Homo sapiens: one gene and its partners. The protein of the gene in region 2 interacts with the protein of the main gene of each other region in a biochemical or structural test. Each region holds a gene or a part of one and is shown on either strand. Other genes may lie near its edges.

What was found.
Region 1: the proteins of PRKCB (region 2) and RACK1 form a complex in vitro, tested with the Homo sapiens proteins (2 studies listed by BioGRID).
Region 3: of the proteins of PRKCB (region 2) and RASGRP3, one has a biochemical effect on the other in vitro, tested with the Homo sapiens proteins (2 studies listed by BioGRID).

Annotation. Positions count from the first base shown.
Region 1 is NC_000005.10:181,241,733-181,245,482, forward strand, and holds the start of RACK1 (small ribosomal subunit protein RACK1), read right to left. Parts: upstream 2,175-3,750; 5' UTR 2,069-2,174; coding exon 1,960-2,068; intron 1,645-1,959; exon of another isoform or gene 1,582-1,644; intron 614-1,581; coding exon 442-613; intron 158-441; exon of another isoform or gene 86-157; intron 1-85. UniProt on the Homo sapiens protein: Scaffolding protein involved in the recruitment, assembly and/or regulation of a variety of signaling molecules. Interacts with a wide variety of proteins and plays a role in many cellular processes.
Region 2 is NC_000016.10:24,090,972-24,094,721, reverse strand, and holds part of PRKCB (protein kinase C beta type), read right to left. Parts: intron 1,932-3,750; coding exon 1,775-1,931; intron 560-1,774; coding exon 425-559; intron 1-424. UniProt on the Homo sapiens protein: Calcium-activated, phospholipid- and diacylglycerol (DAG)-dependent serine/threonine-protein kinase involved in various cellular processes such as regulation of the B-cell receptor (BCR) signalosome, oxidative stress-induced apoptosis, androgen receptor-dependent transcription regulation, insulin signaling and endothelial cells proliferation.
Region 3 is NC_000002.12:33,521,519-33,525,268, reverse strand, and holds part of RASGRP3 (ras guanyl-releasing protein 3), read right to left. Parts: intron 3,315-3,750; coding exon 3,167-3,314; intron 1,391-3,166; coding exon 1,217-1,390; intron 838-1,216; coding exon 721-837; intron 1-720. UniProt on the Homo sapiens protein: Guanine nucleotide exchange factor (GEF) for Ras and Rap1.

The DNA of each region.
Region 1 (3,750 bases), on a different chromosome or scaffold from region 2:
TCACTCATACAACCCTGGATTTGGCTCTGATCACAGAGTCAAGTGACTGAGTATATGAAAGAGAAGAGCCAAGTGACAGAGAATCCCTTCAGAATTGCAGGACATGTCCTCACTCCCACTTGGGGATTGGCTGACAATGCCATCTGTCATCACCAGGACCCTCTAATTCCACCTGCCAATTACCTGAGCTTTCAAGGTAAAACATGTTCAAACTGCTGCCCACTCAGAACTTTTGCACCTGGCAAAAATGTTCAGCCACACTCCTCAGCAATGCTGAGTAACTTATTTAAAGTGAGGGAGGCCAAACATCTTCTGTAGGTGTGCTCTGCTTTCCAGTTCCCAAATGGACTGGATCTCCCCTGGGAAACCAGCCAATTGCATCCACCTCACTTCTGCCCAGATTCTTCCCAAGGCCCCAGAGCTAAGTGAGCAGCTACTTGCGTTGTGAGATCCCAGAGGCGCAGGGTTCCATCCCAGGAGCCTGAGAGGGCAAACTGGCCATCTGAGGAGATAACCACATCACTAACAAAGTGGGAGTGACCCCGCAGAGCACGCTGTGGAATTCCATAGTTGGTCTCATCCCTGGTCAGTTTCCACATGATGATGGTCTTATCTAAAGGAGGTAAAACAGAAGAAAAATCAGTGAGGAACCCGCAGCCCGTTTAACACACTGGATAATTCACTAAGTGTCAAGGTCATGAGTGGGTTAACAACAACTAAGGACGCTTAAGGAGGGATGGAAACAACAGACAAGAGCAGTTACAGACCAGGACTGAGTGGCTCTATTCCAGACTAAAAACGCACGTAGAGGTAAACTGTACCCTGATAACTTTTTTTTTTCTTGAGATGGAGTCTCGCTCTGTCGCCCAGGCTGGAGTGCAGTGGCATGATCTCGGCTCACTCCAAACTCCACCTCCCGTGTTCAAGCAATTCTCCCGCCTCAGCCTCCCAAGTAGCTGGGATTACTTGGCCAGCTGGCACCTGCCAGCACGTCTGGCTAATTTTTTAACTAGAGATGCGGTTTCACCATTGGCCAGGCTAGTCTCTAACTCCTGATCTCAAGTGATCCACTCGCCTCTGCCTTCCAAAGTGCTGGGATTATAGGCGTGAGCCACCGCGCCCAGCCTGTATCCTGAGAACTTAATTTAGGTGCCAGAAATACAGACACCCTTTCCTGAAACTCAGACGAACTCAACAGCCACTTTGTGTCTTCTCTGCAACCAAATGCACAGCAGTTTGTGGCTGTAGAGTAGCTGGGGCCTCCTATGCCTACCTCTGAGGGCCGACAGAAATGTAGTAATGAATGCTGGAAAAGCCACTTCAGGCGCTACAGGATTGGATGCTTTTACTGAAACCTGTCCCACTCAACAAATTTTACGATTAACAGCCAGACATGATTCAAAAGTCAGACAATTCTTAACAGTGTAGCAGCAAAGCGGAAGCACAAGAAGCGTCTAAACGCAGTCAGGAACACAGGGATAGGGACGGGGAGAACCAGGGGCAGAAAAAGTAGGCCGACACTTGAGCCACGAGGTCCTCTGGAGTCCACCTGCCTCCCCACGAGCCTTGGGCCGGGCGGCAGCTCAGAAACAGCCTCTGGATTTCAGCACCGACACTCAGATGGCATGTTGGGGTCATCACCGCCCCGCCCGGCCCGTAGGCCCCCGGCCACACTACGAAGGAGAAGGCAAAAGATATTTTAAAAGTTTCCAACTCTCCAACCCTCCTAGCAGCTGCGAGCTGATGTACACGTAGGTTCTCATCTGCAATGTGGTTCGCCCGGGTTGAGGCCTAGGCTCGGGTCCGCACGCCCCAATTCACAATGGGGCAGAGAAGTCTGTCAGTCCCCGCCAACTCGCGCGCCACCGGCCTGCCACACCACACGCGGAATTCCCTACACGACACGCGGAATCCCCCAGCCCTGCAATCTCGGGTCCTGAAATCTACCTTAGTCCGTACCTCGAGAGGCGGAGAGGATCATGTCCGGGAACTGCGGGGTAGTAGCGATCTGGGTTACCCAGCCGTTGTGGCCCTTGAGGGTGCCACGAAGGGTCATCTGCTCAGTCATGGCGGCGGCGAGAGCGTGTGTCGCTGCAGCGACGAGGATGGCACTGGATGGCTTAGAGAAACTAGCACCACAACCTCTCCTGCCGCCGCCTTGCAGTGAAAGAGAGAGAGAAAAGCCCCCCGCCGGAACCGGAAATACCCGCTCGACCATGCAAAATGGCGAGCCCCATGATACATTTCTGCTCAAGATGGCGGCGCCATGTAATGCAAAAGGCAGAGGGAAATTGCAAGGCATCACAGTCCCGTCTTCCGTACAACAAAATCTGACTGCACTTTACAAATACACTCTGAAACAAGCACATTCAAGTGTTTAAAAAGGCTTCTCAGGGATGATGTAGAGCGAGAAGCGAAAGAGGTGAAGTGTACGGCACATTCCCATGAGGACCGCCGGGCTGCTTCCCCGCCCCTATGTGGCATAGCTCGAGCTCCGCCTGTTCCACTTGGTGCGGGGAGGGTTGACGGGGCAACCCCAGGGGAGCTTAATTTTCATTTCACTATCGTGGGTAACGATGGGCAATTTAAAAAGTAGAGTATTAAAATGTTAAAAATAAACTTTAAAACTGTGCTTCCGGAGGGTGTTCTCCCCTCACGAGGTTTTTGTTCTGATGCACACCAACTCCGGAAGGACTTAGTCCAGGCTGGACTAAGGCAGGAGAGGGTTACTCTGGATGAACTAAGAATTGGTCTCTTTTTCCCGGGCGCGGTGGCTCATGCCTGTAATCCTACCACTTTGAGAGGCCGAGGCGGGTGGATCACTTAAGGTCAGGAGTTCAAGACTAGCCTGGCCAACATGATGCAACCTCTTTCCAAATAAATAAATAAAAAAAATTAAAATTAGCCAGGCGTGGTGGGGGGTGCCTGTAATCCCAGTTACTCGGGAGGCTGAGGCAGGAGAATCCCTTGAACCTGAGAGGCGGAGGTTGCAGTGAACCGAGATCGCGCCACTGCACTCCAGCCTGGGCAGCAGAGCGAGACTCCGACTCAAATAAATAAATACATACATACAATAAAATAATAAAGTAAAAATTGCCCTGTGTGTTGCTAGACTGCCAATCCGTTCCTGCCTAGGCCAGAACACGGGAAGCTCTCGCAGAAACGGAAATGCCCAAAGGAGGACCTTAAGGTTCTGACTTCTGGGGACATCTAGTGGAAAGCTCTCTCTGGGCCCAGCCAGCGTACACAAAAGCCCAGGGGTCTGGGGGTCCAACTGTGCCCTGAAGGACGTGCCCAGACAGGGAAGCGGTGGAACACGGATACCTAACTGTCCTTCTGCCTTCCGCTCGACCGCAGGAATTTAAATAAGTAATGGCTCCCATTCTCACCCATCTCTGACTATAAGAGACAGTGTTGGCACCATGTCTATTCAAGTAGTTTTAAACAGGGGCACAGATCAGGATGATAGCAGCCACCAACATCTATGCAAAATAAAGGGGGCATTATACCTAAGTATATACTTTTCTATTTGTGACATCTATCAACTTTCGTTTCTCATCTGTGAAATGAGATTGGAAATAATATTAGTATCTACATTACATGGTGGTGTGGAAAGTGAAGAAGCAAATGTAAAGCGCCCTGAACAAGGCAGAGTAAATGTTGTGAAACTTAGCACCTCTTGGGTGCCAGGCCTTATTTTAGGTCTTGGGGACACAGCTGTGAACAAGACAGAGGGGGGACCCTGGTTTG
Region 2 (3,750 bases):
CCACCTTGCTCACTGCAACCTCTGCCTCCAGGGTTCAAGTGATCCTCCCATCTCAGCCTCCTGAGTAGCTGGAACTACAGGCACACACCACCATGCCCAGCTAATTTTTCATGTTTTTGATAGAGATGGGGTTTCACCATGTTGCCCAGACTGGTCTTAAACTCCTGAGCTCAAGTGATCTACCTGCCTCGGCCTCCCAGAGTGCTGGGATGACAGGTGTCAGACACGAGGCCTGGCCTCTTTCTTTTTTGTTTTTAGTACAAGGACCAAACAAAACATATCTGCAAGGCAGATCCAATCAACCAGACTTCACTTTGGGACTCTGTTTTAGTATTTCAATTTTTGGAGAAAAAGGAAAACATACTTGACCCCGCGTTTGATGGAGCAAGCTGTATGGTAGCTTTCAAGGCAAAATCTTACTTACCAGCCATCAACACTGGCTTTCTGAAGTTCAGAAATCCCAAAGGACAAAGATCCCATGAAGTCATTCCTGCTGGTCAAATCCCAATCCCAAATCTCTACTGACAGTCTTCTGTCTTTGTCCGATTCTTTCAGCTGACTGCATAGAGAAAAAGAAAAGACATCAGTGGAGGTTGTAGTAATTTCTCAAGCAGAATAAATGTACAAGAGGACAAGACCTGGAGGTAGAAAGTTTTAAAGATTACAAGCTGCTGAAAGAAACATATTCAGTTTCCATCCCAGGCTAGCTCTCCAGGGAGTGAGAGCTTTTTCTGTTTGACAGCCTGTGGCTTAAACAGGCAGAGGTCTTAGACTGGCTATGACAAGAACAGTTCTAACTACTTTTGTTATCTTATGTCTTAATAGGGTTCAGGATATTCAGGAATTCCTATTGCCTATAAGAAATACAGATATCAATTGCATAATTGGGTGTGTACATGTGTATATCTGCACACAGGTGGGTTGAGAATGAGGCTGAGGAAATGCATGGAGAAAAATCCTGGGGAAATTGTCTGTTCTGAGACATGTCCTTGACTGAGGCTGAGAAGGGGCCCAGCTTTGCCCTGAGAGAGGGAAGAGGAGACAGGACAAGGAACTGTGCTTCTAGCTGGTGGCTAAAAAAGTATGACCGCTAAAGTCAGACTGCCAGAAGCTGAATCCCACTCCACCCCATATTTGCTATGGGACTTTGGGCATACTCTTTAACCTCTATAAGCCCTATTGCTACATTGGGAATAAAATGAGCCGATGAAGTCGGATCGCTTAACCCAGTGTTTGTCACACATCATATATGCTCAGTGAATTGGCTGTTATAACCAACTCCTGATGCCTAGATGTACAAGAAAGAGACTCCCAGATTCTTGGAGCCCTGGCCAGGGAAGACCCTCAAGGGAGGCTGGTGGAGATGTCCCAGAAGGCTGCAGGCCAAGCATCATCCATAAACCCAACTCTAGAGAGGCTGTCACCACACCCTGTAGGTTATGTTCCCCTATTTGCTGAGCCCCATCATTTCTCCCACAACTTGCCTTCACTTAGCAACACATCACACCATTTCCTGTCCTACCCACTCCCCCACACCACAGGCATTCTCATCTCTATTAAAAAAATAGCTCTAATTTTTTTTCTTGGCTCACAATACAAAATTGCAGATGGAAAAGAAGGGAGGGAAAGATAGGAGTGAGGGATGGAGAAGACAGAAAAGGAGGGAGGTAGGGAAGGAAGGAAACAGGAGCTAAGGGAGGAGGAACTCCCTGATTTCAGGTGGCACATAACCCAACCTCCACCACCCATGCTCACTGCAGTCATTTCCACTTACAATCTAAATGTCTCATTCCACTCAGGGTTGAGGGAGCATTTGATGGTTTTGGTCTTCTGTTTGCTCTCACTTTTGGGATCGGGAATCAGTTTCAGTTTTACGTAGGGATCTGACAGGCCATTGGGGTCCATAGGTACAAGGTTTTTAGCATCTCTTACTGAAAAAGAAAAAGCAGTTTTTGCATTAATACTGTCCAACATGTTTAAGCACCAAGCAGTGACAGCTGCAGAACTTGTGGAAGGTTCTTTGGCATCACACTTGTTTAGTGAGAAATTTAATTTTATTAACATCCATAGCTGAAGCAGTGCACAAAATGAGATGGGCTGATAAGATGTCAACTCTGGTCTGTGTTGGTTAAAAATGGATTTCTGACTTTTACACTGCTCTTCCCATACCAAGATTAACTGTAAGTTTTCTAAGCTTATTTTCCACAAAGCCCACAGGAAAGGCTGGCTTCTTTCATTTAGCATAACGTTTTCAAAGTTCACCACATTATAGCATGTATCAGCACTTCATTTTTTTGCATGACTGAATAATATTCCATTGTATAGATATCCCACATTTTGTTTATCCATTCAGCAGTTGATGCATAGTTGGGTTGTTTCCACTTTTTGGCTGTTGTGAATACTGCTGCTATGAACATTTGTGTACCCCAACACAAAAGGTCACATATTGTATGATTCCATTTACATGAAACATCCCAAACAGGTAAATCCATAGAGACAGAAAGTAGACTACTATTAATAGTTGCCAGAGGCTGGAGGGAAAGGGAAATGGGGAGTGACTGCTTAATGAGTACAGGGTTTCTTTTAGAGGTGATGAAAATTTCTGAGAACTAGATAGAGATGATGGTTGTCCAACACTGTGAATATTCTATAAATGTCACTGAATTGTACGTTTAAAAACAGTTAATGGTTAATTTTATGTTACGTTAATTTTACCTCCATTCAAAAAGAAAAAGCTAAAGAAAGGAAGAATTACCCTCTAAACCAAGGTACACCTATTATCCATGTATCACCCATAACCAGCACCCAGACAGCCCATAGAGAGAAGGCTGGAACAATGTCAGCAGCATTAGAGCTCAGCTCCACCCTGACTCCAGAACACCCAGGTAAAGAGGCTATAAGGCTAACATGGTGAAACCCTGTCTCTACTAACAATACAAAAAAATTAGCCAGGCATGGTGGCAGGTGCCTGTGGTCCCACCTACTTGGGAGGCCCAGGCAGGAGAATGGCATGAACCCAGGAGGCAGAGCTTGCAGTGAGCCAAGATCATGCCACTGCACTCCAGCCTGGGCGACAGAGTGAGACTCCGTCAAAAAAAAAAGATGAACTTACAGGAGAAAAGGAGGCAGGGAATCAGCAGTGAAGATGCAACTGGCTATAGAAAGGATGAGGGAGACTAAATCATCAGCTTGGAGAAACAGGAAGTAGTTAATTAGGAATCAATTCAGAAACCAGTAATGCAGGTAGTCAATGGAAGCAGACTAGAAAATGAGAATTGCACAGCTCTTAAGGATACAATGTCAATCATCTCACTTACAGTAGAACAATCCACAGTAATACATTCAATCCAAATCGACTCTAACTATCTGCTAAAAGGTGAATACATAATGACTCCTATCAGGAATGCAAAGATGGTTCAATCTTAGGAAATCTATTTTCAATATATTCATCATATTTATAGATCAAAGAAGAAAACCATAAGATCATTGTAGTTATCTAGAAACAGCAGAGAATTTTAACAGGATAAAGGCTATCTGAAATAACAGCACCATGGTTCATGATAAATGCAATTCCATTAAAGTAAGGAATAAGACAAAGATATCCATTACCATAGCCATTATTTAATACTTTTTTTTCTCGTGTTCCATAAGTGCAGTAAGAAATAAAGAGTTACCCTCTAAACCAAGATGCACCTATTATCCATGTATCACCCATAACCTGCACCCAGACAGCCCATAGGGAAAAGGCTG
Region 3 (3,750 bases), on a different chromosome or scaffold from region 2:
GCCCAACACAGTGTTATGAATAGTCATTCAATGACTTTATTTCAGGAGGTAGGGTAGGAACTATTTCTGTCTTATTTACCTTGTGTATCACAATGCCTATCACATAGTAGGACCAAATAGATACCTGTTGAATATTTACCACTACAATATGTTGAGTTTTTTTTTTTTTTTTTGGTTTTTTTTTTTTTGAGATGGAGTCTCGCTCTATCGCCCAGGTTGGAGTGCAGTGGGGTGATCTCGGCTCACTGCAAGCTCTGCCTCCCAGGTTCATGCCATTCTCCTGCCTCAGCCTCCCCAGTAACTGGGACTACAGGTGCCTGCCACCACACCCGGCTAATTTTTTTTGTATTTTTAGTAGAGACGGGGTTTCACCACGTTAGCCAGGATGGTATAGATCTCCTGACCTTGTGATCCGCCCGCCTCAGCCTCCCAAAGTACTGGGATTACAGGTGTGAGCCACCGTGCCCGGCCACCACTACAGTATTCTAATGGTATGTCAAAGCATTCTTCCTAGGACACTTACCACCACCTCCAACCTGTTTTTCCAGGTGGACTCAGCTGGTGTGGTTATTCCCTTTCTACTTTGTCCCCATTTATAACCTACCACTGGTTTAAGAGGAAAACTTTCCCACTCTGAGTGACATTTGTTAGGCGTATACTAAACCTGAACAATTTACAAATGCATTTTTTTACTTTTGATTAGGATCAAGTCTACTATACCTTTGTAACTTCTGAAGAAAGATGAGAATGGGTCTCTTTGAGGCGTGAAATGGAACTATGACTGAGGCCTCCCACCACTGCCATCAGGGTGTTAAAATTTTTGAGCTGAAGGAGCTTCTGCAATAAAAATGCATCAATGCTTTTTAAGGATTTTCAAATTATTCTAAACTTTCTGAATTACAAGTAAATTTATGCACAATTTTAATAACAAGAAGCTAAGGAAAACATTACATCAATTTAAAATGAAGCACAAATAGAATCAGAGAAATATATCTATTATTTCACAGAGAAATAGCTACATTAAATGCTTCTAAGCATTGCTTTCTGAAAGCAATCTTCTTGCATGACAAAAATACGATTTGTTCATTAGATATCAGCGAGTAGTTTAGTTGTCCGATGCCCTTATACTGTGAACGCCACATTTCCTCAATGACTTTTCTCAACAGAGTGAACGAACATCTAGAACTCAAGAACCCAGTCTGATTACCAGACATACCTTTGCAACATTGATAAACTTTGTGATGACTTCTGCCCTTTGCTGGGGGGTTGGTTTGCTAAGAACCATCAACTGGACCCACTTAGAGATTCCATTAAATAAAGCAATCGATCTTTCCAAGGTTGGATTATTCTCCAGGCAGCCATGGATGACATAGCTTTGGTAATCAGTGAACTAGGAAAGGAAGATTCAGAGACTCTGAATTATAATAGAGCCTTTGTAAAATCAAAAATTAGAATATTGCATAGAAAAGGTGAGATATTGTTTCGTAACAACACAATTTCTTTTATTTCACATTTACAATGGCATCCTAAAAGTTTGAATATACATGTGTCTTTAAAATGTTATTTTGCTGCTTTTCAAACCCCACTACTCACCCCACGCAAAGACACCCACTACTACACATCACAGCTTTGGTGGGAGGAGAAAGAGGCAAGATTCAAAGTTGTATTCCAATGAGTTCAAAATTTACTAGGTGATAAGATTCACCTGTGGCACTTGGTAAAATGCTGGTTCCTGGGAACACTCTAGGTGTAAATGATCACTATCTTCAGAAGAAAAACCTAAGAATCTCCTTTTTTTTTTTTTTTTAACCGACTGTCGCTCTATTGCCAGGCTGGAGTGCAGTGGCGCGATCTCGGCTCACTGCAATCTCCGCCTCCCAGGTTCAAGCAATTCTCCTGCCTCAGCCTCCTGAGTAGCTGGGACTACAGGTGCAAGCTGCCACACCTGGCTAAATTTTTTAGTATTTTTAGTAGAGATGGGGTTTCACCACGTTGGCCAGGAAGGTCTCGATCTCTTGACCTCATGATCTGCCCACCTTGGCCTCCCAAAGTGCTGGGATTAAAGGCGCGCCCGGCCAAGAATCTCCATTTTTAACACACTGCTGGTGATTCCAATCAGGCAAGTTAAAGATATAACGGTATACAATAAAGACGAGGAAATGAACGTAAATATAATTATTTCAAGTTAGCATCAGTTGTAAAGTTGTTTCAAGAAAAAGAAGACAGAAGAAAAAAAATTAATTGAAGTAAGGCTGCTCTTTAGCAAGGCAAACACATTTTCAGAATGTTAGCATGGATGTCAAAAAATACATAAGAGCTTTCTATCATATAAACTGTGCAGGGGACTCCCATGGCCTGCCTGTGGGGAATTGTTAAGGTCCTCTCCAAGTAGGATTACTTAGTGAAAGAATCAGTCTTTCAGAAATTCATGCTTCTAACCAAGACAGTCTTCTTTGCACGCAATAATGTAATTCATTCTCTGACACCTTGGAAAAGGAGGAGGAGCGACTTCCCCACAGCTTGGCGAGACAAAGCAAAGTGGCTGGCTGATTGTGAACCAGTGTGGAAAATGTTTACCATAACGGGAGGAGAGAGAGCAGGAGGCTAAGAAATCACAGACCAGAGAAAGAAAAGGGGGAGTTAGAGAAGGAATGAGGCTCCATCAAGATGAGTAGGAAAGAAAAGTTTAATTCAGGATCTCTATCTCTGGGAAAGAAACAACCTGATGTTGAGATTCTCCTTAAAGTCTACAATTCCTATTTTCAACCTATACCCATAATTAGCCATTTATACAAATCCGAACCTAACTAAATATTTTTTCCCAAAAACGAAGGGCCTAGCAAAACATGTTCACTTGGGAGAAGTCAATGGAGCTAAATCAACCTTGAATGGTTAAATCTCCACTGACTGTTTAGAAAAATCACGCTTTAATCCTATGAAAGGAGACATTGAAAATAGCGACAGAAATATAGCTCCTGAGCCATAAAATAAAGACAGGATAATATTTATCTTTGGTTAAAAGGGATTGTTCCTGTGAATTAAGGGCACTTCTCCAGCAGAGCACAGTGATAGAAGCTGCCAACACTTCAGAGTATGAAAATGCAGCTCTTGGGAAAGTTGGCATGGTGGTTGTTATCCTTGGAAGAATAAATGTCAAGTTTCTTACTGAGATCCTTCTAAAAGATTTATGCTCCAGAAAAGTGAGGTGCTCAGCCAATTCAATGGGCTCCAGATGGTCAAACAGCAGACAGGCTTTTCCCTTCTTGGATACTTTTTTCCTCTGTGTGACTCTTCTCATCCAGTCATAGGAAGGACTATAAAAGAAGAGTGAGTCCGGTCAATGTGTTGAAAGCCCATTTCACTCAATGGAAGTTATTAACCTACTGACTCTGCAACTCTTGGCTTGCTTCCAGGGACTTGTGCAAAATACATGCCCTGTCTTTCATATTGGAAGAGAAAACCACTGACCAGTTGCCAACAGAACATAAACTTGCAGTTGTTTTTCCAGACAGGGTAGGTTTTGCACTGAACCATCCAGAATTTCTTACTTAGTGTCTTTGTGACCGGCAAGGTCTGGATCATACAGGAAAGGTCGGGGCTAGTATATAAATTTGGGAGTTTATCAGGATATAGGTGGTGATTTAAGACACATGGAAACCACTAGAAGCTGTGGTTCTCATACTTTAGTATAACATGAACTATCTGAAAAGCTTGTTATAAAGACAGAGGCCTGGGCCTCGCTGCCAGAGG